Linked DNA regions of Homo sapiens. The protein of the gene in region 4 purifies or fractionates together with the protein of the main gene of each other region. This does not show direct contact. Each region holds a gene or a part of one and is shown on either strand. Other genes may lie near its edges.

Region 1 (7,362 bases), on a different chromosome or scaffold from region 4:
ATTTGGGCACAAAAAGATTAGGAAATCACTTCAATTTGCAAACAGTGCTGGAAAAAGTAAGAACATTTTATAAAATCAGAAACACAGGACCCTTTTACTTTAATGAAACACATTCTAAAGGAATTTTGATATTTTTCCTGCCAAACTATCTCAGCAAGTTAAGTAAGCAAGTAATATCACATTAAATCAACCTGAAGACTGAGATTTAAGAGGGAAAAACATGATTGCTGGGATGGTAGAGTGAACTAAAATACTCTGCCTAACCATTGCCTATCACTCATCTGTCCCCCAGCCTCCCCCTTGCCCCGGCCCCATGTTGAGCTATATCCTAAGAAATATCGTTGTCTAAAAACAAAACGCTAAAACCTGAACTGCCCTTTAACAAAGATGAATAGAAGGAATTTTGAGACAAAACTCCCAAATACTATTCTCATCTATGCTAGTGCTTCTATGAGTTCAGACAAAAATCTCTCCTTGCAATTTACTTTCCCAACTGGCAAATGAAGATTATTTTCACTCATCAGGATGTCCAAAGTCTTGATTAATAAAGTTTGCCAAGAGCTTTTAAATATATAGATAAAAGGAGTTATAACAAGGAATTTATTTTTTTAAAATGTATTTCCTTTAGCGCCCTCACAGAAGTGAAGGTTGTGGTGTGTTAGCTGGGGTTATTTTTGCACTCTTTTCTCTCTCTCTCTTGTTTTGTAAGCAAATTTTACTGCTTCTGCAAGCATTTTTCAAAGAAAATCAACCTTCTGCTTTAGAGAACAGAGATGTTAACCTATCCTTTGGAGGGATTAGTGTTTAACCTTATCTTGAGGGCAGGCATCAAGATCTTTCTAAGGCTGTGATCGGAATAGAATAGTTCCTATCAAGTTAAGAAGATCAATAGAGAGAAATCAATTTAGAGGAAAAAAGGAAAAGCAGAGATTCCTTGGGGAAAACCTGGAACAGTTGCTCACTTCAGAAAATGTTATTCATTCCCAACAATTTTAAAAATGATTCCAAATTATATTTAAGGCACAACACTCAATCAGAATTAAAGTATAGCGAGTTTTACATTTTTTCTCTTTTAGATTTGAGTTTACATCAGAATTAAGCCTCATACATTAACATTGCTTTTGTCATTTCCATGTATTTTTTTCTCTATATAAGCTTTCTTATTGGCTGGAGGGCAGTTGGATATGTTTGTGAGCTGACTAGTTTTGTATTCTATATTTTTTCTAATTTTAATCAGTGACATCTTGGAAGATGTGGCTGTTAGAAATAGGAATATTGACTTACAGTGTGTTACTGGATGTCGGGCAACTTTCCAGACCCCCATGGCTTTGCTCACATTATTTCTTCTATCTATCAGTCCAGATAGATGTCTTCCTCTTCCTCCATTCCTGCAAAGCTAAATCCTATCTATTTTTCAAAGCCCAGTTCACATGCTCCCTTCCCTGCACTCTCATAACACCTCCTGTTTCTAATATATAACGTTAGTGAGATTTTTTAAATGTTTAGGTAATCGTGTATCTTTCTTTCCTACTACATTGAGATCCTCAAGTACAAAAAAAACTCTCTCATGTCATGACCTTAGACACCAGAAAATGTTAAATATAATAAAATGCCAGTTCAAAAATAACCATTGAAAAGGATGTGATAAGCAACCTAGTAATTCAGTCAGTGGGGCTGCTAGAAACCGTTGTCTTCATAGCTGAATTCAACTGACTCAATTCGGACTCAATTGTATGTAAACTGTTTATTTTTCTTTCTTCTTTTTTGGAGACAGTTTCGCTCTTGTAGCCCAGGCTGGAGTGCAGTGGCACGATCTCGGCTCACTGCAACATCCGCCTCCCAGGTTCAAGCGATCCTCTTGCCTCAGTCTCCCGACTAGCTGGGATTACAGGCGCCCGCCACCACGCCCAGCTAATTTTTGTATTTTTAGTAAAGACAGGGTTTCGCCATGATGGCCAGGCTGGTCTCGATCTCCTGACCTCAGGTGATCCACCCTCCTCGGCCTCCCAAAGTGTTGGTATTACAGGTGTGTCAGACACTGCGCCCAGCCTACTGTAAGTAAACTCTTTTGAGGCCAGGAACTCTGTCTTATTTCTTGTGCATCACCCCCTCCCCACCACCCCCCCGCACCCGGCAAAAAAAAAAAAAAATTAATAACCTCAGTATCATCTAATTCAATGTTCTGCACATATTCTCAATACAAAGCCATACTATTGTAGATAAAGAGTCTGTGATTAAAATAAAGATCAGATCCTGGACAAACGCTGAATTGTGAAACGATAAGTGTTTGTGCTTAAGATAATCTCAACGTCTACAACGAAGAAAAGTGTCAAAGATAAGATGCCACAGGGTCGGACAATGGACAGTAACTTTACTGGAAAGGGGGCACAATGAACAAAACTAAGTGGAAACAAGAGTTCTCTCAGTTTACCTTACGCTCCCAGAGCAAGACAAGAAGCCAAATATCTATTTTTCAATTATTATTTCATCAATTATGGTCATTTTAGTAACCTTAGCTTCCAAAGTATAAAGAGGTGTCACTAAGCAAAGACCCCAGTCCATGTGACTTTCAATGCCAAACACAAACTTTCTTGTACCCTCAATTAATTGGGTAACGTAGGCCATGGATGATCAGGACATTCTCTCCAAGAGGGTACAAGAAAGTGACACAGGTCAGGATTTAATTTCCCCTCCTCTATCCCCTGTTAGGGGAGGTAAAACATAAATGTAGTTAATACCTGAATTGTGAATAAGTGAAACTTTCGAGACTGCCCCAGACTAACATGACCTTCTCACCACACTCGTAGTACAAACTGACAGCACAGAAGACCCCCTCCAGGAGAAAGGACGACGGGAAGCCAATGTAGGACTTACCTGGTTTCTCTATCCTATGGTTAAACCTCTGGAGCTACGCAGACCGTGGCAGCGATAAATCCACGTACGCAGGCTCCAACAAAGCTCACACAATCGGAGAAGTCACAGTAGCTGCGGCTGCGGCGGCGGCAGCAACAACTCCTCCCTCTGCTTCTCTTTTCCCACCCCCCGCCGCGGCGGCCAGCCGCCTTTACCCCTCCCTCCCTCGACTACCCCCACTTCCGGGTGATGCCCCTGCCGGAAGCAGGGCCGCCACGGGAAAGAGAGCGACTGGTCACGTGAAAAGGAACGCGTGGTCTAGAGCCAGCTTCTCCTGCCCCCTGCTGCCCCCGGGCCGACACGCAGCCTCGAGTGGGTCTTTGTTAGGGTACGAGTCCACTATCCCACCCCGCCCCCACGACAAAAGCGAAACCAGAAAACCCATACTAAAACAGTGCCTTTGTCATCTTTAGTTTCCTAACCTCAGGCCAAGATGTAACATAAAAGATCCTTATAAGTCATCTTCCACATAGTTCATCTTTGCCTAGCATGAAATTCACGTGCATCTGTTAGACTGTGTTAACTGCCAAGATGTAACATAAAAGCTCCTTATAAGTCATCTTCCACATAGTTCATCTTCGCCCAGCATGAAATTCACGTGCATCAGTTAGACTGTGTTAACTGCCAAGATGTAACATAAAAGCTCCTTATAAGTCATCTTCCACATAGTTCATCTTCGCCCAGCATGAAATTCACGTGCATCTGTTAGACTGTGTTAACTTGCTTCCCGTAGACTGTGTAGCCTAATTCCAGATGTAAGTGCCAGAACTATGAATTTATCCTCTTCCCTCCATTGAAAAATTACATCAAGAGGAAAATGTTTATAAATTCATAATTTTTATATGTGTGTTGAGGGGGTAGGGACGTCACTTCACCACCTTCATAGCGCCATTCCAAGCTCTGAACCACTCCCCCATTTATTCATTCACTCGTCCATCATTTTACACACCTAGAAGATTCCGGTGATGCAAAAGTGTTACAGTCTCTGTTACCATGAGTTCATTTAGAAATGAGATGCATAAAATGTAAACAATGCAATAAATGGTACAGAAAACATTTGAAAAAAGGGTCATTTTATTCTTGCTTTCCAACTTAACATTTTGAAAAGCAGCAAAATTCTAGGATTTTTAAAACTATGAACATTAACAGTAAAAAGAGGGAGAGGCTCCATCTCACTTATTTCAAAGCAAGATGTGGCCTTTTCATATTTCCTTTCATGAAGTATCTGTCATAAGATGTAGAACAAAACTAATCACAGGACTATTTGTATTTTCATCTGGAACCATTTGAACCCAGTTCCCACAGAAGAGTATGAAGCCTAATAATGTTGCAGAAATCAAAATAGTACACAAAATACAAATATCAAGTAAATATTTGTAAAAGACTTAGAACAGCGTCCGGCACAAAGTAAGCATATTTAAGTGTTGAAATAATTTCCATCCTAGCTGTTGTCAAGTCCCTATTAAGCCTTGACAGGCAACATTTAAAATTACCCATAGATCTACATTTTAGGTCTGTGATTAAGTATTTCAGAATTATTATCCCCCTCCACACTCATCCACATAAATATAAAATTAGCCTCAGGACTCATCTTCCCAGGCATTATTTTGTAGTTGTCAATGTGTGCAGCCTTAATTATTAAGATACAAACTCAGCCCCAAATTTAAAATCTTAAAAATCACATCATATGAAATGAAGATAGCTTTTAAGTGGGTTTCCAAATATTAGCAAGTTGGTTTGTAACTATATTAACATTGTGTTAAGCATCCAAAAGAAATTCACTAAAAGGCAAAACCAAAAATATATCTTTTTCAGAAGCAGAACATTGAATCTACTAGCTATCTAGTATTTTTATGTAAATACTAAAGTTTATCACTATGAGCTGCAAGATCCTCTGCCAACCATGTACATTCTTAGGCACTCTAATATTTAACATAAAAACCTAGAGAGCTATATATATATTTTGTTGTTGTTTGGTTTTGAGAGTCTTGCTGTCACCCAGGCTGGAGTGCAGAAGTGTGATCATAGGTCCTTGTAACCTTAAACTCCGGGGCTAAAGCGATCCTTGCACCTCAGCCTCCCAAGTAGTTGGAACTATGGGCACACACCACCACACCTGGCTAGTTTTTATTTTTTTGTGTGTGGAGATGGGAGTCTCCCTTTGTTGCCCAGGCTGGTCTCGAACTCTTGGCCTCAAATGATCCTCCCACCTCAGCTGCCCAAAGTGCTGGGATTACAGATATGAGCCACCAGGCCCAGCCTAAAACTCTTGTCTTTAAATGCATCATCCCTAATCCTCCTTACCAATGCACAAGCATAGAAGGGAATGTCTTCAAGAAATAATCAGGTTTGCTGGGGGTTGAGCAGACAGCAGGTGTCCCTAAAATGCTTATGAAGTGTATTAATAACCCCAGTGACATTAAGCCAGGAGGATGGGAACTCAACATCTGTACCTCTACAACTACCACAGTACCCGTGTCTAGGTAAGTTAAAATGAATCTAAAATAACAGAACACAGGTGCTACAATAATTCTGTCCTAGAGTGAAATTAAGAATGAGATTTATGAGGTTGGGCACCGTGGCTCACGACTGTAATCCCAGCACTTTGGGAGGCCGAGGCAGGTGGATCGCCTGAGGTCAGGAGTTCGAGACCAGCCTGGCCAACATGACAAAACCCTGTCTCTACTAAAAATATAAAAATTAACCAGGTGTGATGGTGGGCGCCTGTAATTCCAGCTACTTGGGAGGCCGAGGCAGAATCCCTTGAACCCAGGAGGCGGAGGTTGCAGTGAGCCAAAATCACACCACTGAACTCCAGCCTGGATGACAGAGCAAAACTCGGTCTCAAAAAAAAAAAAAGAATGGGATTTATGACATTAACCCTAATGTTAAAATATTTCACAGCCATCCAAATAGAGTTTAAAGGATTGGCAATGATTTTAAGGTAAGTAACTTACCTAAATTCTTCAGACTTACAGATACTTGAGGACAGAGGACTAATTTGACGACTTTCCAACTCTAGGTATGACTGAAACTCAAAGCGATGTTACGGGTAAGTTGAGAAAATTTGTGTGAAAGGATATTTTCATGGCTCTGAGAGCACTAGGAAAGCTCCAAGGTCAGTATATACTGTGATGGCACACACACACAAAAAACTGCTTCATTTCTAGTAGTGGTCATAAGTTTTAGAATTACTCATCAGGATAAGATTAACTACAAAATTAAGTTCAAAAAGTGTGTTCAAAGTTACTACCACCACCAGGTTTTATCACACAAAGCAACATATAATTTTGATCACAAATGGACACAGAAAACATTCTAAATTGTCATACAGATGACAACTATCACTTAGCTTAGTACAAACCATACTGAAACTGCTTCCACGTCGTGAGAAATAAGTGTTAATTCAGTGACAAAAAGGTATATAATTGAAGGTTGACACTTCCTTAAATACATGTTTATTTTACTTCAATATCGCTCAGGGTTGTATGTATTTGAATACTTCAGTACTATTTTGAACATTCTAAATATGAAATACCATAAAGCGTTCAAATTTATCAAACAGTGGTACAATATGGTTACTAAACTTGCAACTTAATTTACAATGACGTTCAATTTTTCCTCTTCAAATAAAATCACTGACTTTGGTCCATTTGATGAGAAACTAGGACATATGCCATGACAGCATACTTCTAGCACTCTATGTAATAAGCAAAAGATAATTTAGCTAATATAGACAGGTTACCTGACTGAAATTCTACTTTCTGCTTAATTGATCACGATCAAGAAAACTACAAAAAAAAAACAAAAAACAAAACAAAACAACTACCACAGACTACAGCTCTCAGCCAAGAAAGTAATGATATATAAGCCGGGCGCGGTGTCTCATGCCTGTAAGCCTAGCACTTTGGGAGGCTGAGGTGGGTGGATCGCCTGAGGTCAGGAGTTCAAGACCAGGTTGGCCAACATGGTGAAACCCCATCTCTACTAAAAATACAAAAATTAGCCAGGCATGGTGGCAGGCGCCTGTAATTCCAGTTACTAGGGAGGCTGAGACAGGAGAATCACTTGAATCCGGGAGGCAAAGGTTGCAGTGTGTCAAGATCACACCACTGCACTCCAGCCTGGGCAACAGAGTGAGACTTCATCTCAAAAAAGAAAAACAAAGAAATATGTGGTACAGATATTGCTCTTCTTCAGGTAACATACATAAAATCCAATGTTATATACTAAAATAATAATCCACAAATCCAAACATTGTTATAATTATACAACAGGTGACTGATAGTAGATAACTAGGAACAGACTGCATTTGACAAGATTTTCTTTAATAACATCATAAACATCCCTAATATGATGAAAGACCAAGAGCTATAATCAAGATGAATATGCCAAAACAGCCAAGGAGCTAGTAGCTAGTCTTCAGACAGGCTACGAGTTTGTTTTATA
Region 2 (7,644 bases), on a different chromosome or scaffold from region 4:
ACATCCTTATGATCTGTAGTACTGTTTCACATGATCTTCCTAACCTTTCTATAAGTGGTATCATTCTGAACACAATCAGTGTGTAACTTACTTCTTGTTCAATTTTATTGTTTGTGAGAGTAATCCACGTTGACACCTATAGCTCTAGTACCTTTGTTTACTACTGCATAATATTCCACTATATGAATACACTACATATTTGGCCAAAGACACTGCTTGATGTTTCATATGCCATGTAGTGCCTACTATTTTCCATACCACTATGGAAAATGCGCCAGCCATTTTCCATAACATTCTCCAGAATCCTCACAGCCACCTAATGAGGAAGGTATGATTCCCACTAGACCAAAGAGGAAACTGGAGCAGGGAACTGGTGTAATTTGTCCAATATGTGTGAGCAGCAGACTCCTGCTTCAAGTTCAAGTCCATCGAAGTTTAAAGCCACACTTCTGACAATGCGCCTTGTAACCCTGCTTATGTAGATTCTTATTTATTATTTTTTTTTTAATTTTTTTTGAGATGGAGTCTCACTCTGTCACCCAGGCTGAGTGCAGTGGCGCGATCTCTGCTCACTGCAAGCTCTTCCTCCCGGGTTCACGCCATTCTCCTGCCTCAGCCTCCCGAATAACTGGGACTACAGGCACCCGCCACCATGCCTGGCTAATTTTTTGTATATTTAATAGACATGGGGTGTCACCGTGTTAGCCAGGATGGTCTCGAGCTCCTGACCTCGTGATCCACCCGTCTCGGCCTCCCAAAGTGCTGGGATTACAGGAGATTCAGATTATTTTAATGAAAAAAACTGATAGAGTTCTACAGTCATCTGGGAAAAATGTGAAACACGATGCTCTATTTTCTTTAACAAACATCCCACAGGAAATTCGTCCGACACAGGGACAGCCCGTATGTACACTGAGGAAGAGCCTCTGCCTTTGGCAAAGGTCTCCCACTAGGGTCATTACCAAGTTTATACAGGCACTCTCTAAGTAAGCCTGTGTAGGACTGCAACCCGAGTTGGTTTTCTTTGGGGAAACAGGCTGTCTGCACCCACTTACAGACAGGACAGGGGAGCCCAAGAGAACATGGGAATCAGATCCTGCTTGAACTGGCAAAAGCTGAGTCAGCAAAGCTCTAAGAACATCTCCAGGGAGCAGCTCCAGCTGTTAGCAGCTCTGGGGGTCTGAGGAACAGTCCTCAGCTCACAAGGCCAGGAGTTTGCCTAGTCTGCTCTCCGTGTGGCCAGCTTTGAGAGCACTTTCATACATCCCAGCCCAACCCTGTTGCTCTGGAGAAAGCCCAACCTGGAATACGGAAGAGGAGTGAGAGTGAGGGTGGAGACTCACAGAAACCAGGCAGGGAGCAAAGCCTGGAAAAAGGATACCCAGCTCCAGGCCTGGGCCCAGATCCCTCCAGATGCTCAAAGCAGGTGGGCCCCTAGGAGGTGACAGTCTAGTCCCCCAGAACTCCCAAGGACAGGGGAGGCCTTTCAGCACCAGGACTCCTGACTCTACTCTCCTGCTTCTACACTGTATCTCTCATTTTGTCTGTCCACTGGAGGATTAAGGGAGCCTCAAAGGAGCAAGGCATAACTGGCTGAAAAGACCCCCTCCCACCCATCCTGGACAAAGCAAGGAGGAAGAACACAGGATCTGCCACCTACTGGCTGTGTGACCTTAGCTGGAGCATCCCCGTCCACTCTGGAGGAAAATGTAGTGGACTGTCTCTAAGGGCCCTGCCATCTGACTCTTTCTGTCTACAGTGCTAAATGCACTCTGGCTCACGCCTGGCATCCCAGCACTTTGGGAAGCTGGATGGGGAGGATGGTTTCGGCCCAGGAGTTCGAGACTAGCCTGGGCAACATAGTGAGACCCCCGTTTCTTTAAAAAAAAAAAAAAATTTAATTAGCCAGGCGTGGTGGCCCGCACCTGTGGTCCCAGCTACTTGGGAGGCTGAGGTGGGAGGATCTCTTGAGCCCAGGCATGGAGGCTGCAGTGAGCCGAGATCGCACCCCTGCACTCCAGCCTGGACAACAGAACAAGATCCTGTCTCAAAAAGAATAAATAAACAAATAAATAAAAGCACTGACATTTACTGAGCAGTTTAAAGTATAATTCATTTAATCCCAACACCCCATGAGGTAGATACTACTGTTATCCCATTTTACAGAGGAGGCCGCTGCAGCCCAGAGCGGTTCACTGAGGTACCAAGGCCATAGGCAAAGTTCTAAAGGAGGCCCCAGGGGTAGAAGCCTACGCTCACGGATGCCTGGGAAGGCTGCACAGGACATCCACGGGATGGTGGGGGTCGGGAGACACCAGAGACTGGCCCGAGGTTAGGCGCAGAGGGAGATAATGGGTCAAGGTGTCTGAGAAAGGAGACGGGGCTTGGTAGCCCCAGCGAGACTGGCCTAAGCCCAGATAGTGGGGAGGAGATAGGAACGAGGGCGGGATGTGGAGAAGCAGGGAAAGGCAGGCCGACGTGGGCAGGGGCGAGGAGGCCTTGGAGGAAGGAGGGTGGATGGCGCAAGCCAGTGGCGGAGGCAGGGGACGCCGGCGGAAGCGCGCGGGCGGCTTTGGGGCGAGCGGTCCCACCTTGAGCACCGTGACGGCTCCCGCGCTGTGCACCTGGAAGTGCGCGGGCGGCTCCGTGCCCGGCTCCGCCGCCTCGTCGGGGCCCTGGTAGCTGAAGCAGGCGTCCGCGATGTCCAAGTGGCCGAGGGGCAGCGCGTCCTGCGGACTCTTGAAATAGTAAAGGTAGCAGCGGCGCGCGTCGAACACGAACCAGCGGCTGCGGTAGCCACGCAGGGGGCCCTTGCCCGACAGCTTCTGCAGATAGCCACACAGCCGCGCTGGCTCCCGCGCCGGACCCGCCCCGGGCTCCGCGGCCGCCCCCTGCGCCGCGCCCTCGCCGCCGCCGCCGCCCTCCTCCGCCCGGGCTCCGGCCCCCGGCATCGCTACCGCGCGCCAACCGTAGGCGCCCGCGCCCTGCGCCTCCGCGCCGCGGCCGCTGCGCCCCCTACCCCCTCCGCACCGCCCCTTCGCTCCGCACGGCCCGCGGGCGCGCAAAGCACCCTGGGACTTGTAGTCTCGCCCCCGCCCGCCCGCCGGCCGTTGCCCCCTCAGCCCCCGGAGGCAGGGTCCTGCGACCAGCACCCCGCGGGTCAGTTGCCTTCGTGCCACCTGGGCTCCAAGTCCTCGCCCTGCCGGATGAAGCAATGGTCTATTTCTTTATGGCAGTGTAGGTACATGGGAGTGTGCATCTCTCAAAACCCAGCGGAGTGTCCGCTTAAAACTGCATTTCACACTGTGTATCTTATTCTAAAAACTTGATATTTAAATCTCCCTCCTGCCAGAGTCTCAAGCTAATATTGTAAAAATGAGACAGCCTATTGCCTGGTGCTGAGTGGGTGCTCAGTAAATATTTGCAGAATTCATGAAAGCCAAAGCGTTTCCTGCCTCTCCAGACCTCAGTTCATTTATTGAATTCAACATATATTTATTGAGCGCCTTCTGAATGCCGGGTACGGTTCTGTATGCCAGGCCCTGGCGGATACAGCAGTGAACAAACCAATCATTCTCCTGCCCTCGTGGAGGTTATATTCTAGTAAGGCAGGGAGGTGACACACAAGAAAGCAGATAAAAGTAATGTGTGCTATGTTGTATAAATGCCGTGATGACATGTAAATGATTACCGCTTAAAATAGCACCTAGTATTTATCAGTGCTTTATAGACTAACTTATTTGAACACTCACAACCTGAGAAGGCAAATCTATTGCTTTGTAATAAAGCAAAGAGAAAGAATGAATAAGACCAAGTATTTGCTAGCACAACAGGGTGACTACAGTCAAAAATAATATAATTGTACGTTTAAAAATAACCAAAAGAGTATAATACAGACGCGGTGGTTCACGCCTGTAATCCCAGCAGTTTGGGAGGCCGAGGTGGGTGGATCACCTGAGGTCGGGAGTTCGAGACCAGCCTGACCAACATGAAGAAACCCTGTCTCTACTAAAAATACAAAATTAGCTGGGCGTGGTGGTGCATGCCTGTAATCCCAGCTACTCGGGAGGCTGAAGCAAGAGAATCTCTTGAACCCCGGAGGTGGAGGTTGCAGTGAGCCGAGGTTGCGCCATTGCACTCCAGCCTGGGCAACAAGAGCAAAACTCTGTCTAAAAAGAAAAAAAAAAGTATAATAGGATTGTTTGTAACACAAAGGATAAATGCTTGAGGTGATGGATACCTTACTTACCCTGATTTGATTATTATGCATTGCATGCCTGTATTAAAATATCTCATGTAACCCATAAATATATACACCTACTATGTTCCCACAAGAATAAAAAATAAGTAAAAAGCAAAGTGAGAGGATGAAGTGATGGGGGGCAGATAGCAGGCTGCTGCCCCAGGACAGGCAAGGAGGCTGGTCTGATCCTGTGACATGGAGCACAAACCCAGATGATGGGAGGGACAGGGGCAACCAGAAATGTGGGTGAAGCATTCCAGGGAGAGGGAATAGTGAGTACAAGAGCTCACTTTATTCAAAGGAAAAAGGAAGTGTATAGCTACATAGCTACATTTGTGAAAGCCCAAACCAAATATCTCACCCTCATAGATTTGCATGTTTTATACAGACACACTGAAAGACCCAGGTGGAAAACTGACCTTTCTGAGCTGGACAGGGACACAAATTAGACTGCCTGTTTGGAGCCACCCAGGTAGGAAGGGCAGGTTCTGGGTCCTCACCCAGCCTGCCGACTCTCTGCAGGCCCTAAAGTGGCACCACGCAAGCATTCCTTTCCTGGGGCCCATCAGAGGTGTGGCTGACCTCTCCACCTGTCTTTGAGCACAATCAGCACAGTGTTAAGGACTGGGCTCTGACTTCACACTGACCAGATGTGTCTCCTAGCTCTGCCACTTACCAGAGGCATGACCTTGGGCAAGTGATTTAACCTCTCTGGGCCTCAGTCTCTTCATTTATAAAACAGGGTTGATAAATACAAGTAGCTATCTCGTGCTGTTGTTATTGAAAGGGTTACGTGAGAAATGCATATGAAAGTGCTTAGCACGGTGCCTCACACATAGTAAGCACTCAGCACATATCAGCTGTTATTATTATCATCTTGCAGTTAACACCGATGTCTTCCTCATCAGTCAGCAGATTCGGAGAGGGGGAATCCAACAGTCAGACCGGGCCCAGACAAGGGAGGCCAGACACTGCGGTGCTGCGGGAGTGGAGTGGGCTGCTCTCGGGAGCAAGGGGTCCCAAGTTCAATTTGGGCCTCACCATGTATGTAAAAGGGGCTGTGACTAATTGGCTTGTGGGGTAGGCAGTCAGGGTGAGGTCTGACCTTGAAATACTGTGGGAAAGGGAAGAGCTGGGAGAACCCGGTCTGTATTGCCATGGTACAGGGAGGCAACAGGACAGGGGAGGGTGTAGCCCATCTCTCCTAGATCTATCAGTAAGTTATAAGGAAGTGGGGGTGGCCATGACCTGTGGTCCCAGTGGACAGGACCAAGCCCCATGAGGTGTCTCACGGGGGCCGATGTCTGCTAGGCCCGAGGAAGGCATCCTTCACAGGCACAAGCCACGAGCCCCCCTCCTGGACTAAGAGTCTGGGCTGGCTGGCCAGGGCTAGGCAGATGGGACGGGACAGGGGTGCTGTTTTAAGCGGTAATCATCTACATGTCATCACGGCATTTATACAACATAGCACACATTACTTTTATCTGCTTTCTTGTGTGTCACCTCCCTGCCTTACTAGAATATAATCTCCACGAGGGTAGGAGAATGATTGGTTTGTTCACTGCTGTATCCGCCAGGGCCTGGCATGCAGAACCGTACCTGCTGTCTGTGCCCCTCAGTGGGCAAGCTGGACTTCAGCCTGACTCCCCTACACCTGAGCCTCCAATCCTTCCCTGGTCACCCAGCACAGATGAGCTGGGGCCATTTTAAAATGCTTGCAGGGCTGAGTGTGGTGGCTCACGCCTGTAATCCCAGCACTTTGGGAGGCCAAGGAGGGCAGATCACAAGGTCAGGAGTTTGAGACCTGCCTGGGCAACATGGTGAAAACCAATCTCTACTAAAAATACAAAAATGAGCCAGGCACGGTGGCACGTGCCTGTAATCCCAGCTACTCAGGAGGCCGAGGCAGGAGAATCGCTTGAGTCTGGGAGGAGGAGGTTGCAGTGAACCAAGATCGTGCCACTGCACTCCAGCCTGGGTAACAGAGCAAGGCTCTGTCTCAAAATAATAATAATAATAAAAATAAATAAAATGCTTGTAAGCCACTGCCCTCTTCCTTCTGGAGGCCACACCTGACATCATATCAAACATATTAAAATGCTCTACATCCCGTAGTAAACATATACATAATTTTTGCTATGAAAATGTTTTCAGGAATATCCATAATTGTGCTCTTGATATTATCTAATTATGAGTTTTCATTTTCATTTTTAATTGGCTGATTTCTTGGCAATCATCGTGTCTGTGTGGGAATTTTGGCCAAGTGAGAGAAACCTAACCTAGAAATTGTTCTCAAATGTAATGACCTTTTTTTTTTTTTTTTTTTTGGAGATGGGTCTCATTGTGTCACCCAGGCTGGAGTGCGGTGACGCTACCTCAACTCACTGCAACCTCCCCCTCCTGGGCTCAGGCAATCCTCCCACCTCAGCCTCCTGAGTAGCTGGAACCACAGGTGTGCGCAGCACCACGCTCAGCTAATTTTTGTATTTTTTGTAGAGATAGGTCTCTGCTATGTTGCCCAGGCTGGTCTCAAACTCCTGGTCTCAAGTGATCCTCCCACCTTGGCCTCCCAGAGTGCTGGGATTAAGGCATGAGCCAAGGTGCCCAGCTCTGTTATGACATTTTTATGATGACTATAAAGGTGACATGTTACATTTGTAGACATTTAATTAGATGTTCATTAATTCTAATTTTGCTGTTTTTCTTGGGTTTTAGAGCCAATACATTTTTCTTAGGCCACAAACATTTCACAGGCCTCTCAAGCAGGCAGGCCCAGGCACTGAGCTTTTTAGTATATTAGGGGATAAACTGGCCTGGCCCCTGCCTCGGTCTGGCCGGGTCCAGAATATGGCCCTCTGAGGAGGCTGCACAGACACAGGCCTGAGTCCCCAGTGAGAGTGGTAAAGTATGGAGGCCTCAAAGCCAACAGCAATGTCTCAGGAGGGTCCCCTGGAGGGCCCTGAGTCTCTGTCTACCCGACCAGGCTTAGGAAGTGGCCCAAGCCTTCCAAGGATCCCTAGAGCCTCCAGAATCAACCCTAAAACCCTCTTGACTCTCTAGACCTCCCCCAGGCCCCTCTTCCCCACTGACTCTCTCAAGACCCTGCTGAAATGCTTTTTATTTCGTGAACAAACCCTTCTCCCCTCATTCCTAGGGCCATGAGCTGAGGAGAACTAGGCAATGGGGCTTTATCTCATCTCTCTTAGTACCTCCATCTTCAGTCTGGACAATGTTTATAGTTTATGTAAATAGATATAGCTTCAGTTCTTCCCAAGGGCCTCCTACATGGAAATGTTGGGGCTGTCTCTGGTGGCTCCTAATTCCCTGAAACCCTTCGTAAATGGTTTGTTGACATCTGCAGTTCCTGAGGTCTCTTAGATTAAACAGTGATGTCCTGTGGT
Region 3 (7,647 bases), on a different chromosome or scaffold from region 4:
TGGGATGGGAGGGGGTAGATGGGGAACTGGGCTGCCAGGGTTGGGGGTTGATGAGGCTGGGAGCCTGGATTCCTGCTTCTAGAGGAAGGGGTTGGGGGATGAAATTCTTAGATCCCAAGTGCGAAGAGGATGCTGGTGGCCCAGACTCCTCGGTTCTGGTGGCGGAGGGTGTTAGAGGTCCCAGTTCCTGGGTTGTGGGGGCTGGGGACGGGTGGGCCAACGTCCTGACCTCCTGTGCCTCCTGATGCCTCCGGGTTGAACTCTCACATTGGTCCATGCGCTCCTGGTGCAAGAACCGGCAGCCTTCAGGCACCAGCAGGGCCTCACTCACAAATTCACCAGCTGGGGAAGCACGGGACACCAGGGTGAGATCCTCCTATAGCCACCAACCCCACCCTCCTCAGAATCCAGATATTTTATCCTCAGAGGCTTCTCTGCCCCACTTAGGACACAAGCACCCAGCCCCTTAATGTAGGCCTGAGAGAGGGGCTCAGAACCTTGCCCCTCAGAAACTCCCACCTCAGTTCCCCTCTCCCCGCCTGGGACTCACGCAGGCAGCGGAAGGGCACAACCTGGTGGTGGGGGTGGGCGCAGCTGCCGCTCCGGGAACCCCCGCACCAGCGCTCCATGGGGATGGCCTGCGTAGCCTGCTCCACACGTGCAATCTGCAGCTCCGGGTACATCTGGGGGGATCAGATGGGGGCAATCAGCCCACTGCCCCGCCCCTGCCAGCCACCCCTCTCCAGTAGTCAGGTCCCTTTTCTCTTTCTTTCTCCCTCTTTCTTTCTTTCTTTGAGACGGAGATTTGCTCTTGTCGCCCAGGCTGGAGTGGAATGGTACAATCTCGGCTCACTGCAACCTCCTCCTCCCAGGTTCAAGCGATTCTCCTGTCTCAGCCTCCTGAGTAGCTGGGATTACAGGCACGCACCACCATGCCAGGCTAATTTTTGTATTTTTAGTAGAGACGGAGTTTCGCCGTGTTGGCCAGGCTGGTCTCGAACTTCTGACCTCAGGTGATCCGCCTGCCTCGGCCTCCCCAAGTGCTGCGATTACAGGCGTGAGCCACCGCGCCCGGCCAGGTCCGTTTTCAAGGCTCTAGTATTCATGAGGACATCGCTTCCCTAGGCCCTGCTTCTCCCTAGCACCAGCCTTAGATATCCAAGCTCCTTGTGCTCATTGGCCACGCCCACTAGCAGTTTTCCCTTAAAAGTCCCGTCATCTTTAAGCCCTATCTCTTTTCCTGTGCTGTTTCTTTCTGAAGGTCCCTCTAAGCCCACCTCTCTGGTCACCCCTCCCCGCAGTCAGATTCGTCTCCCCAAAGGTCTCACCCTCCTTTAGGCCCCGCCTTTTCCTCTATTCCGCCTCTCCAAAACTCTCCCTTCCCGTTATAAATTTGTCTTTTCATGGCCACGCCCCCCCAGCTCTCCGCGCTCTCATTGGGCTCCACCCCTTTCCCCATCTTGCTGGTCCTTAAGGTCTCTTTCTGTCTTAGCCCCGCCTATCCTTTCGCCACTCCCCCCTACACCTCTACTCTTTACAAAGACCACCAGATTCCTAAATTCCACTTCCTCTCTGGCTATCTCGCGGCTCTCCCCTTTTCCTGACTTAGTATCTCAAAACAGGTCCCCTGCCCCTAGCATAGTTGCGCCTCTTTATTGGCCACGCCCCCCAGCCTCCACGCCTTAGATCGCGCAGCACCCTGGACCACGCCTTTTTCAAGTCTAGCTTTCTATGGGCGGCCCCGCCTCTCCCGTTCGGCCCCGCCCACCTGTCTGCAGTACTCCAGCACGCGCTGCGGGTCCCGGAGACAGCGTCGAGAGCGCTGTGGGTCTGGTTCCCAGCGGCCGGTGCGCAGGTCCCGGTGAAGGGTTAGGCGCCCGCATAGTCCAGCCACCTGGGCCGACCCCGGGGCCTGGATGGAAGTGGAAAGGACAGTGAGGGCTCGGGGGGCGTTGGCATGAGGGTCCCCTGGTTCTTTGCTCCCTAGGACCGAGACCCCCAGCACCAGCCCCCTCCCCCAAGCACCGCACACCGCCTCCATGGAGGCACCGTTCCCTGGGAAACAGCTCCCGTAGGGCGGGGGCGCCCCAGCGCTCCCGTTGCTATGGCGACCTGGGTCCCCCGGGATTCTTTCTGCCTTGTTGCCGCGGAGACAGACTCCGCCCCCACCCCAGCGCAGCCGCTCTGGAGCCCGAAGGGGTTAAACCTGAATCGCGGAGGAGGAGGCCAGAACCCAGGAGTTCTGGCCCCTCCTCCCTCCATCCCTTGCTCAGGCTCCCGTTGCAGGATGCAAAGCTGACAAGGCCTGGCTTCAGGGGCCTACAGTCCTGGACACCAGGTCCTTGAGGACTGGAGAGCTACATCTGGTTGGGGTGGGTGGTGACTGAAGGACTGGACTCCTGGGTCCTGGGAGGCTGCAAGGGCCTCCATATGGGTCCAGAGAATACAAGGGGTCTGGATTATTGGATCTAAATGCCTCGCTGCTTGGTGGGTCCTATGTCCAGGCGGGAGGGGGTTGGGGCCGAGTCACCTGGGTCTGGAGAGGGGGCTGGACTTCTGGGACCAGGGGCTCTGAATAGACCAGTTCCTATGCTCGAGATGGGAGGGGGCTGGGACGTCGCATGATGGGGGAGCTGGGGCCTGGAACCCTGGGTTCATAAATGTGATTGGGGGCGCCTGGGGGCTGACCACCTGGCTGGAAAGACCGCGCTTTCTGCCCTGGACATGTCCGCGCCGGCGTCCAGAGACCCGGTCCCGCCCCTTCCCCCATCCCCCAGGACCCGGCCCGGCCTCACCTCGGCCGCGCCGGGGCTCCCACCGGCCAGGCTCCCGATGGCGGGCTGCGCGCGCAGAAGCAGCAGCAATAGTGGCAGCAGCAGCGGCAGCGGCGGCTGGCCCGGGCGGCGACTTAGACCGCGAGCAGCGGGGCTGGCGGGCCCCATGTCCCGGCCCTTGCGCCCTCACGTCCCCTGCACTCCCGCCCGGCCCGGCCCCAGCGGTGACAGGAGCTCCCAGCGCCACCGCCGCCACCTCCTCCTCCCGCCGCCCCCGGGCTGCGCCGGCGCCGCCAGCCCCGCCCCGCGCCGGCCCCGCCTTCCTGGTCAGGACAATAGCGTGGCGGCTTCGCGCAGAGTGGAGCAGCTCGGGAACCCCGGGCGGGAGCCTGCGCCAGGCCCCCGCCCCTCGAGATTCCAGGCGTCCCGCCCCATGAAGGGCCCAGCCAGGAGTCCGGCTATGGGCTCCGCCCGTTGTGGATTTTGAGTCCTCCCGCAGGACTCTCACCCTCTTTAGACCCAGACACTCACAGTTTTGTCCTTTTCCAAGGATGCAAGCATCAGAGACCCCCATCCCCTAGTACATTCCTCTGTTGAGGGCTCAGGAATACAGGCCTCCAAAATGTCCCCAGTCAAGAAGGCAGCAGTTGAGACCTAGTCCCTTCCTCTTTCAGATCCAGAAGTCTGGGCACCTTCTCTCTCAGGACCAGAGACCAAGCCCCCAGCCCATTCTCCTTCAGACCCAGGAGTTCACTCTTCTTGCTCTGCTTCCCAAGGGTCCCAGGGGCCTGGACCTTTAACTCCTAGCTCAAGGATCCATGAACCAAAGCCCCCAGGACCTTTCTTTAAGGATCATCCAAGCAGGCACCAGCACCATGCCCACTGTGGATGCAGCACCTCAGGATTAGGGTCTGGATCTCCACGCTTGCTGTAAGGACCAGGGGATTGCCATTTTCCTACCCATAGTCTCCCCTTCCCTGCTCCACTTCAGGGCTCACTTGTTTGTCTCCTCTAATGAGAGTTAGAATTCAGTCTTCCCCAGGACCCCTGGGGCAGCCCTGTCACTTGTGTGCAACTGTGTGGACATCTATGCGTGTGTCTGTGCATACATGCCTATGTGTGTGTCTTTTCTGTTTGCAACTCATGTGTGTGTGTGCGTGTGTGTGTGTGTGTGTGTGTGTGTGAAGATGTATATTAAAAGAGCCCATGGCTGGGCACAGTGGCTCATGCCTGTAATCCCAGCACATTGGGAGGCCTAGGTGGGCGGATCACTTGAGGTCAGGAGTTTGAGACCAGCCTGGCCAACATGGTGAAACCCTGTCTACAAACAAATACAAAAATTAGCTGGGTGTGGTGGCATGCACCTGTAGTCCCAGCTACTTGGGAGGCTGAGGTGGAAGGATGGCTTGAGCCCAGGATGCAGAGGTAGCAGTGGGCTGAGATCATGCCACTGCACTCCAATGTGGGCCATAGAGCCAGATCTTGTCTCAAGAAAAAAAAAAAAAGAGCCTAGAGTGCTTTGCAGGTAGCAAGAGGCTGAGAGGTGGCTCACAGTTTTACTCCTACAGCCACCTCATAGGCTAGGGTAGAGGAGGGACCTTGGGACAGGTCTAAGGGACCCCTTCCTTGGTGGAGAGTGATAATGCCAGTAGACTCCCTAAGACACACTTGCCTCTTTGACTTTTTTTTATTATTAAACATAAATATTTTTATCCCAATATTTTGCCCCAACAGTGGTAATTCTCACTGTATCCCCACTCCTTGGGTCCAAGTCTTTCTGAGTCTTTAAGGAAAGTAAAATCAAGATGGTGGCCATCTTGGGTTCCTAGGGAGTATATGGCCATCTTGGCTGCATTTCCATTGGCCGAGCAAAGTTCCCCTCAGGGAGAGCCAGGGTGGGGCCTGGTATGCTCTTCATCTTCATCTATCCTATGCTACCTTTCCTCTCAATGCAGATGGTCATCTTGAAATATCTTCTTTCAGTGGCTAGAAACAACTTCCATCCCGGCCCCAAACTCCCAACACCCACTGCCCTGTCCCCATCTCTCCTCAAAGGGCCTACCTGCCATCTTGAATCTCTTTTACACCGGGGAATAGGTGGGCATATTGGGTGGCCATGTTGCTCCCACTTGGGGCATCTCCTTTGGCTGAGCTGACTGTATACAAATGCTCCTGACAAATGTAATGATCTTTCCCTCCCCTTGTGTTCAGTTTTGGAGGAGTAAGGTCGCCAACTTGTCCTGGCTCCTCAGAAATCAGAACAATCCATTATGGCAAGTTGGAGATCCCAGGACTCTTCCATTGGAAAGATGTCACACGTGAGTCTGGAGACGCGGGTGGCTAGGTGTGGGGAAGGCAGCATATGGGAAGGGGGGAGTCCCGGGGGCCAGATCTGGGGGCCCAAAGGATGTGGGTTTGATGTAGCTGGTGAAAGCTCGAGGGTGGGGTGTGGTGAGATAGCCTGCCCTGGCTCTGTAAAGTCTGCAGGGGGGGACCATGCCCAGGTGTGGGTTGAAGTCATAGAAGGTAGGGGTCCCTGGGGGCCCAAGGGGGGAGGGTGGTGGCAGGAAGAGACCTCCTCCAGGGGCTTCGCCAAGGCTCAGGCTCACACTGACTCCTCGGACCTTGTAGTAACCGTTGGTTGGGTCCTGAGGGGACAAATGGGACTCAGTAAAGTCTGTGAGCGTGCAGGGGGGATGAGGGTCACTGATGGAGAGACACACTGAAATAGACCAGACCTTGAGAGAGACAAAAAGAGACAGGAGTGGGCAGAGACACAGAGACACACATGGACTGGGAGAGAGAGAAAGTGAGACAGAGGAACAGTGATAAGAGGCAAATGGATAGGACATAGGCAGAGAAAGGTAGAGACGGAGGGATATAGGCCTGCTGAGGGGTGTCGGTGTGGAAGGTGCAGAGGGAACAGGAGAGAGACACTCACCTGCCCAACAGCCTCTAGGCTTTGATTCAGTGTCACACCCTGTGTTGCTGCTACAAGGCATGTCACTAGGATAGAACTGGACCCTGTCCTCACAGAATCCCACACCAAAGGAAAAATGACAGATCATGAGACAGTACCCAGAGGGGTCAGGGCTGTGCCTGGGAAAGGCATAGGCAATGACAGGGGCTGTGATGGTAGAGCCCTCAGCATAGTGGGTGGGATAAGGAAGCCCAGATCAGAGTGGTCATGGCTGTGATGGGTGGAACACAGGCAAAATGATCGAGCTGTCATGACGGAAGCATGGGCTTCCTAGAACAAGAAATGTCTGAGCTGAGACTGGAGGACTAAAGGAAGGAATTAGGTAGACATGGGAAGGAAGGTAGGAGTGTTTCAGGCCAAGAGAATGGCATGTCGGCTGGGCACAGTGGCTCACGCCTGTAATCCCAGCACTTTGGGAGGCTGGGGCGAGCGGATCACTTGAGGTCAGGAGTTCCAGATCAGCCTGGCCAACATGGTGAAACTCCATCTCTACTAAAAATACAAGAAAAATTAGCCAGCTATTAGGGAGCCTGAGGCAGGAGAATGGCTTGAACCCAGGAGGCAGAGGTTGCAGTGAGCTGAGATTGCACCACTGCACTCCAGCCTGGGCAACAGAATGAGACTCCGTCTCAAAAAAAAAAAAAAAAAAAAGAAGAGAGAGAATGGCATGTGCTAGGTACGCAGGAGAGAGAGAGAGAGAGAAGTGCTCTGGCCTGGGGATGGCCTGGAGTCAATGTGGCTGTCCTGAGGTAGGACCCCAGAGGAAGAACCAGTCTGGGGAGATGTGGGGCCAGTGTAGGACCTGGTGGCTGAAAGGGGGCTTGACCGTGATGAGGAGAGCACAGGCAGGGTGAGCCCTGGTCTGGGGCTCCAGATGGAGGCTAGGGCTGGGACAGATGTGTGGGAAGAGTCTGCAGACAGGCAAACTGAGGCTGGGAGCTGAGTGAGATGGCCCAGGGGGCAGGAGGAGTGGGGTGGGGAGCTGAGTCCCAACTCTGAGGACAACAGAAGGAAAAAGGAGGGGACAGGCGTGGGAGAGAGACGGAAACACAATGAAGGGAGCCCCGCCTCTCCCAACAGTGAAGGGAGCCCCACCCCTCTCAACACTCACCTTGGTCTCCAGAGTCCCTTCCTCCTCCAGAACCAGATCACTGTGGTCAGTGTGCACAATGGGGCCCTGGGGTAGGGAACTTAGTGAGAGGGAATAGTCAGAGGATCCCCCCGCCCCAATGCCAGACCCCAAGGACCTTCAGCCAGCCAGTGGAGGCCAGGCAGGAGGGAGTAAGAGCACCCAAGAGCTGGGGACTGCACTCAGGACAATAAAAGGGCTGTAAGAAGCCAGCACAGTGGCTCATGCATGTAATCCCAGCACTTTGGGAGGCCGCAGCAGGAGTATCACTTGAGGCCAGAAGTTTGAGACCAGCCTGGCTAACATGCCGAAACTCTGTCTCTACTAAAAATGCAAAAAATAGGCAGGCATGGTGGCAGGCACCTGTAATTTCAGCTACTCAGGAGGCTAAGGAACGAGAATCACTTGAACTGGGAGGTGGAGGGTGCAGTGAGTCTGGATTGCACCACTGCATTCCAGCTTGGACGACAGAGCAAGACTCTATCTCAAAAACAACAACAACAACAACAACAACAACAAAAACGGGCTGTGGGGACATACTGGGCCTAGGGAATAATTGGGTCAGGGGCATGGACTTGGGTGACATTTGGGTGTGGGGTCACTGTTAAGACTAGAGCCCTTGGCCGGGCGCGGTGGCTCACGCCTGTAATCCCAGCACTTTGGGAGGCCGAGACGAGCGGATCACGAGGTCAGGAGATCCAGACCATCCTGGCTAACACGGTATACACCTCGTCTCTACTAAAAATACAAAAAAATTAGCTGGA
Region 4 (7,021 bases):
CACACTCCCCACACCCAAGCAGGATAAGTGCTCGTCTGGGAAGCACTGAGTATTTCTCCCAGTAATACGTATCACATAGTACCGTCATTCATTCCTTAGCTGTCAGCCTTTCTCTATAGACCCAGAGCTCCGAGCAGGTAGAGGCAGTGGCCATCCTGGTCAGTGTCCACGTGTGGCATCTGGAACAGTGCCCAGCACTTGGGAAGCCAAACTGAGTGAACAGAGCTGGATAAGCCAGGAGGCCACTGCTCTCATTCAGGGGAGAGATGACTGTGTCATGGGAAAGGAATTCGAAAGATATAACAACTGAGCTTCTTAATTTCTCTCTAGTCACCATTCAAAACACTGAATGAAATGCTTTCCAAGTCAATTATGTTATGAAAATTCAACAGTAAATCTGATCTGTTGAGTGATGTCCACAAAAGCTCACATCCCTGTGGAAAGTCAGAAAGGATCATGGTTTGAGCCCTTTTACAAGCAAAAATTAGGCATAATTCTAGGCCACATAGAAACTGCCACCTCATTGGGATAACAAGTTTACCTTCTTTTGTTTTCAGAATAATTCTGCAAAGCCTCAAAGCAGAGGATGGAAACATTTCAAATCCTGCTGACATAGTCTGCATCTTTGCTTTGATTTTTAAATATGATTCCAAGCAGGCAGATAATGTTGTGACCCAATTACGGGGTATTTTGGAAGTAGTAGGCACCCAACTTGGGAGTGGAGCTGGTGGGTGTAAAGGGAAGAGTTACTAAGCAAGCACTACCACCTGCCTCTCAATCCTTCACGGGATTTTACAGAGAAGGGAGCTATGGCAATCAGGAAGTAATGCAACATCTCCCCTGACCCGCTTCCCATTTTCTCACCATTCCCAAAATAGACAGAGCTAAGGAAAATCATAAATATAATTCTCAGCCCTCTAGGGAAAAGCTCATTAAGGGCATAAATTTGGGTCCCTGGGAAAAAAGGGATGAAAGGCAAAGCTATTAAAAATCTCAAGAGATGAGACAATGGGAAATAAAGCCAACGGACAAAAAGGAACTAGAAAAACACAAAAACTATGGCCATTTCCTACACCAAAGCATACTTACAGGTAGGGCTACAAGCTCAACTGCCCTGGATACTCTAAACTCAAGCTCTTTAGAGTCAAAAGGTAAAGTTTTTGTTTAAAACTAAAAATAAAAATACTCGTTAAGTAAGGTCTTATCTCACATCAAGTATTGTTCTCTGCCCTTATACATTCACTGATGAAATCTTCACAACAATCATATTATATAAGCACAATTAGTATTCCTATTTGCAGATGAGCAAACTGAGCACTGTGTAATTCTGTTGTCAAAGTACAATTCTGTTGCCCTTTGTCATATGGCTATTAAATTGCAGAGCAGCACTGGGACTTGACCACTAAACCCCTGCTGCCTCCTTCTAGGGCTATCCTTGCACATGTTGTAGGATATTTAGTAGCATTCTTAGCCTCTTCCTACTAGATGCCAGTAGTTATCCCTCCACAGTCACCATGACCAAAATGTCACTGCCAAATGTTCCCCAGTGAGCAAAACTGTCCTGCTTAAGAACTACTGCCACAGAGATTTGAAAGGCCAAATCCCGAGTTCCCTTACAAAAGGAGTAGCAAATCCTGGGTGGTAGGCAGGAATAAAATTGAGTTAAGGAAAGATGACAAAGGAAGCAGCTGAAGGGTTTGCTGTAGTGGGAATTTTACATGAGGAGTCACTAGCCACAGCTCTTGCCACTCTCGCAGGATTAGGACAGCCTTCCTTCCCCTCCACTCCCATCACACACATGCCTCTACTGCAGCACCCTATAACCAATGTTCTGGTACATTCCTCTCTGTCCTCCTGAACTTAGCACAGTGCCAGGCACAAACTATGTACTCAATAAGCATTTGCTGAACAAAGGAAGGAACAAATGAAGCCGAGGTTTCTGGATGTCACCAAATGAATGTCTCTCTTCACCAGTGTCCTGGAAAAGGTATACACAGACCTTGGTTCTTGGAGAGGACAAGAGGTTCTGATCAGATAATCTGAAGAATCTGAGTCTGAATCAATGCTTCCCAAGGTGTCTCTACACCCAAATCATGCCTCTGCTGTGTTCAAAATTTGCAATGTGGTATATGATCATTTCTTGAAATGTCAAGGAAATTTTAACGGTATTAGTTCCCCCAGGAATGAAACAACTCAAGAAACCTAACTCATGCTAAGGAAATTCTGATTTATTCACTTCCACTGACAAACAATACCACCTAGCAAATTGTGATACTCAATGTGGCAGGTCGACTCTTGCCCAGGACAGAAGTCTACCTGAGAAACAGAAGGAAGATCAGAAGGTAAGAACAGAGCCAGCACCAAAGAGCAAGCAGGATGCTGCCAGGGAGAGGACCCATACCTGTAATCCCAGCACTTTGAGAGGCTGAGGCGGGCAGATCACTTGAGGTCAGGAGTTCGAGACCTGCTTGGCCAAAGTGGTGAAACCCCAGCCTCTACTAAAAATACAAAAATTAGCCGGATACAGTGGCGGGCACCTGTAGTTCCAACTACTTGGGTAGCTGAGGCAGGAAAACTGCTTGAACCTGGAAGGTGGAGGTTGCAGTGAGCCGAGATTAAGCCACTGCATTCCAGCCTGGGCGACCAAGTGAGACTCCGTCTCAAAAAAAAAAAAAAAAAAAAAAAAAAAGGAAATAATTTGTTGTTATTGTTTTGACACTCCTTCTTCACCCCACAATAGCAACCAAAACTAAAGGTGAATAACAGCAATTCCATGAGCAAATCATTCTGAAGCTTCCTCCAGCAATTCAAGGCTCACCCTGGAGGGAATGATACTGCAGAGGTCTGGGCCAAGCTGGCTATTACACAATTCTAGGTTCTATGGCTTTCACCCATCACCATTTCCTAGAATCACTAACTAAGAATTGCTAAAGAGTGTTGTTTTGCCAGAAAGAGGCCTGCATGCAAAGAATCAAATGTCAAGATACATCTTGAGGTTCACCTGCTGAAATTCACACTTCAACCACTTGCCCATTCTGTTCCCTTACACCCTCATCTTTCATCTTGGTGCTTTCCTTGTCATTCTCAAGCTATAATTCAAAAATAGTCACTGGCTCCTAGGGCACTTTCAAAATTAGCTCATTCACAGTTCCTAGGACCTTGGGTGACTCTATATTCCTGGAAAGCCCAGGGGCCCCATCAGCTGACCCACAAACTCCACATGTTGGCCTGGCCTCCATGACTCAACTCAATCCCAAGGGCAGGCCTCCCTGCATCTCAGGCCCAGATTCCCAGACTTACCAATTTCATGGACCATTCAGCGGCTAGATAAAAATATTCCTATCAAATCATAAAAGAATCTTACCCAAAAATGAGAAAGGCATAGTATCAGAGAAAAGGACATATCTTCTTATTTGAACAATTATGACATATTCACTACATCATTATCATCATTGTGATAAGAACAGTGAAAACCACTAACCAACAATAAATGACCTGTGGGGCTAACATTATGCTCTGCATATAGGAGATACTCATTTACTTTTATATTGTGTGGAAACTGAGCTCTGACTTACACGACAGGGACACATCCCATACCTCCAGTAATGCCAGGCCTTCCTTCTTCAACAATGGCATTTCCCTTTACCCTCTGGAATTCCGCAAAGTCTCTCCAATCTATCTCACCCTCTTAAACACACGTTTTTCCTTCTACCTCGATTCCAATATTCTGCATTCTTTTTTTTGAGACAGAGTCTCGCCCTTTCACCCAGGCTGGAGTGCAGTGGCGCGGTCTCAGCTCACAGCAACCTCCACCTCCTGGGTTCAAGCGATTCTCCTGCCTCAGCCTCCTGAGTAGCTGAAATTACAGGCGTGTGCCACCATGCCCGGCTAATTTTTGTATTTTTAGCAGAGACGGGGTTTCACCATGTTGGCCAGGCTGGTCTCAAACTCCCGACCTCAAGTGAGCCACCTGCCTTGGCCTCCGAAAGTGCTAGGATTACAGGCATGAGCCACTGCTCCCGGTTTCTGCATTCTTTTTCATCAACTTAAAAAAAACGACACTCTTCCTCCCACTCTAAGCATTCCTGAAGCATACTTGCCAATGAGTTACACTTCGGGAACTTCAGTTATTACCTAGCAAACAAAGTTTGCAAGATTTCCACAAGAGGAAAAGAGAGGGTAGAACTGGTAAACTTTGTTTATAACCACTGTCAAGTCATTAACCAACAACAAAGAAAAGCTTTAATCCATCCTTTTCTATACCATTCATTTCTTTCCATGTTCTCTTCTCGTATTTGTCCATGTGAATCTGTACATTTTATATATCAATAAATTATATATTGGGATTTTTCTCTGATTATAAAATAAATATACGTCCATTACAGAAAACAAGATAAGATTCAAACACCATGGAAATAAATTATATAGAAAGGGAATATCTCCTGTAACTCTACACACAAAGAGCTCTAATACCTTTAAACTGATCAAGCTTCTTACTTCCTGCCCAGTTGTGTGACTTGACCTTCCACCCTCTATGCCCTTCCTCTCTCCCAGCTCTCATCTAATGTCTGGAGTTAATGACCCACTCCTAACAGGGGTCCAGGAACCCTGGAGCCTGGTTATTAGAGGAACTAGAGTCACTCTCCCTTTATTAAAAATTATTTCAATGGGATAACAACTCCTCACTGACTCACTTAAAGGTTAATGAGGCTGAGTTTTGTGAGCCTCTTGAAAGCAAAATGCACTAAAAACACCAAATGGGATTGGTTTCCTTTGCTCTCTGCCCCATCGCAGCTTGCCAAGAAAAAAGAAAAAAAAGCTCATGATCCTGCTAATGACACTGAGTAGACACATTTCACCAGCCACCACTCCTGCTACTGCAGCAGCCAATCACAGGCATCTGTCCAACACAGTGACAGGGCTAACGTCAAATGAGAGTGAAAGTCGTATTCCAGAGACCAAGGGCTGCATTTCTCATCGAGGCGAGGAGACAAAGGCTGGGACACAGGAAAGGCTTGCCAAAATTTCACAAGGGTGGGCCTGGGAAGCAAAGCACAGGACCCCCTCCCCTGCAGCCTAGGTAGAGGTTTCTTTCTCAGACTATCTGTGTGCTCAAGAGCAGAAAGTCTCCCCGCAGAAAATGCTATGAAGTAGTTTCAAATGTCGAATACACTTTACCCAAATCTAATCATTACCTTATCTGCTAACTAGACTGGCAGGGCCATAAAGTTAATTTTATGACAACCATTTTATAACAAATGAAAACTATAAGGGAAGTAGGAATTGGGCAAAAAAAGAAGGGCATTGGACAAAGCAGTGACAAACCAGACAGGGAAACACAAAATCACCTCCAAATAATGCTCTAAACCAGTGGTCTCCAGACAGCGTTCATGGAAGACAATTTTTCCACGGATGGGGTTGGGGATTGGGATGAAACTGTTCCAACTCAGATCAACAAGCAGTAGATTCTCATAGGGAGTGCACAACCAAGATCCCACACATGTGCAGTTCACAACAGGGTTCACAGTCCTGTGAGAATCAAATGCCACCACTGATCTGACAGAGGTGGAGCTCAGGTGGTAAAGGTCACTTGCCCGCCGCTCACCTCCTGCTCTATGGCCCGGTTCCTAATAGGCCACTGACCAGTTCAGGTCCGAAGCAGGGGGCTGGGGACCCCTGCTCTTAAACGAAGACCTCTCTCCTCGAATGGCTGCATCACAGATCTCTAGACTGGGACAAGAAGGACCCGATAGACAACCAGAGGGTGACTGCAGCTCTCTCATTTTACAGATGGGAAAACAGGCCCAGAGACATAACTGACTTTTTCCAGGTAACACAGTGAATTGAAGTAAGGGACAAGCCAGCCCCAAAGGCAAGTCTTTGGGGTCCCTGGTTAGTAGTCTTTCCTCCAAATCCCCCCAGACCCTTTATTATGGAGAGTCTGTTACTCTGCCTCTGACAAACCATTTCGGCTGAGAGAAATGCCGTCAACACATATCAGCATGCAGAATATGCACTAATAACACATTAAAATCAAAATGGCTAATCTGGGTTTATCTTCTGACATCTAATTTCATTTGTTGGTAGTGCAACATTATTGAAAATAAATGAACACAAAACAGTTTTAAAATCTGGATAGAACCTTCTTGAAAACATTCAAATCATTCTGAAGATATGCAGTTCCAATCAAATTTAATTCTAAATAACAAATCAAAGATGCTTTAAAAGAGAATGCTTACTGAATAATAATGGAATCAATTAAAGATATTTTCATATAAGATAAAAGTTTAAAGCTCTATTGCTGTGAAATCACGAGCATCTACCTTTTCAGAGGGGTTTTCTTAGACAGCTGACATTTATGCATAGATGCTTACAGCATAAGATGATATATACAAAACCTTAATAGGATAATAGGACACATAAAAAGCACTGAACAGACCAGGCGTGATGGCTCACGCCTGTAATCCCAGCACTTTGGGAGACCGAGACTGGTGGACCTCCTGAGGTCAGGACTTGGAGACCAGCCTGGCCAACATGGTGAAACCCCATTTCTACTAAAATTACAAAAATTAGCCAGGCGTGGTGGCGGGCACCTGGAATCCCAGCTACTCAGGAGGCTGAGGCAGGAGAATTACTTGAACCTGGGAGGTGGAGGTTACAGTGAGCCAAGATCGCGCCACTACACTCCAGCCTGGGTGACAGACTGAAACTCTGTCTCAAAAATAATAATAATAATAATAATACTAGGCACTGAACAAATGCTGGTTTCCTAACCCCATGTAGGAAAATAAGTATTCCCCCCATAACCAGTAATAACTTATTACAATATTTTCCTAAAAGTCTGTCCCACCTGCTCCCCTCCCCCGCCCCCGGAAAACTTAAGGTGTTATATCACAAGGGTATTGTCCAGTTTTGTTTTGTTATTTATTTACTTATTTATTTATTTTATTTATGTATTTATTTTGAGACGGAGTCTCACCCTTTTGCCCAGGCTGGAGTGCAGTGGCGCGATCTTGGCTCA

What was found.
Region 1: the proteins of APBB2 (region 4) and ATP7A purify together in Homo sapiens (affinity purification with mass spectrometry; 4 studies listed by BioGRID and IntAct, with this or other methods). This does not show direct contact.
Region 2: the proteins of APBB2 (region 4) and TBC1D2B purify together in Homo sapiens (affinity purification with mass spectrometry; 4 studies listed by BioGRID and IntAct, with this or other methods). This does not show direct contact.
Region 3: the proteins of APBB2 (region 4) and APLP1 purify together in Homo sapiens (affinity purification with mass spectrometry; 4 studies listed by BioGRID and IntAct, with this or other methods). This does not show direct contact.

Annotation. Positions count from the first base shown.
Region 1 is NC_000023.11:77,906,348-77,913,709, reverse strand, and holds the start of ATP7A (copper-transporting ATPase 1), read right to left. Parts: upstream 3,018-7,362; 5' UTR 2,875-3,017; intron 1-2,874. UniProt on the Homo sapiens protein: ATP-driven copper (Cu(+)) ion pump that plays an important role in intracellular copper ion homeostasis.
Region 2 is NC_000015.10:78,074,702-78,082,345, forward strand, and holds the start of TBC1D2B (TBC1 domain family member 2B), read right to left. Parts: upstream 3,011-7,644; 5' UTR 2,952-3,010; coding exon 2,592-2,951; intron 1-2,591. UniProt on the Homo sapiens protein: GTPase-activating protein that plays a role in the early steps of endocytosis.
Region 3 is NC_000019.10:35,863,932-35,871,578, reverse strand, and holds the start of APLP1 (amyloid beta precursor like protein 1 isoform 1 precursor), read right to left. Parts: upstream 3,006-7,647; 5' UTR 2,943-3,005; coding exon 2,796-2,942; intron 2,488-2,795; exon of another isoform or gene 2,222-2,487; intron 1,913-2,221; coding exon 1,769-1,912; intron 684-1,768; coding exon 551-683; intron 343-550; coding exon 230-342; intron 1-229. Other genes in the region: KIRREL2 (kin of IRRE-like protein 2 isoform c precursor), read right to left, coding at 5,087-5,422, 6,866-6,931. UniProt on the Homo sapiens protein: May play a role in postsynaptic function. The C-terminal gamma-secretase processed fragment, ALID1, activates transcription activation through APBB1 (Fe65) binding. Couples to JIP signal transduction through C-terminal binding.
Region 4 is NC_000004.12:41,204,537-41,211,557, forward strand, and holds part of APBB2 (amyloid beta precursor protein binding family B member 2), read right to left. Parts: intron 1-7,021. UniProt on the Homo sapiens protein: Plays a role in the maintenance of lens transparency, and may also play a role in muscle cell strength. Involved in hippocampal neurite branching and neuromuscular junction formation, as a result plays a role in spatial memory functioning.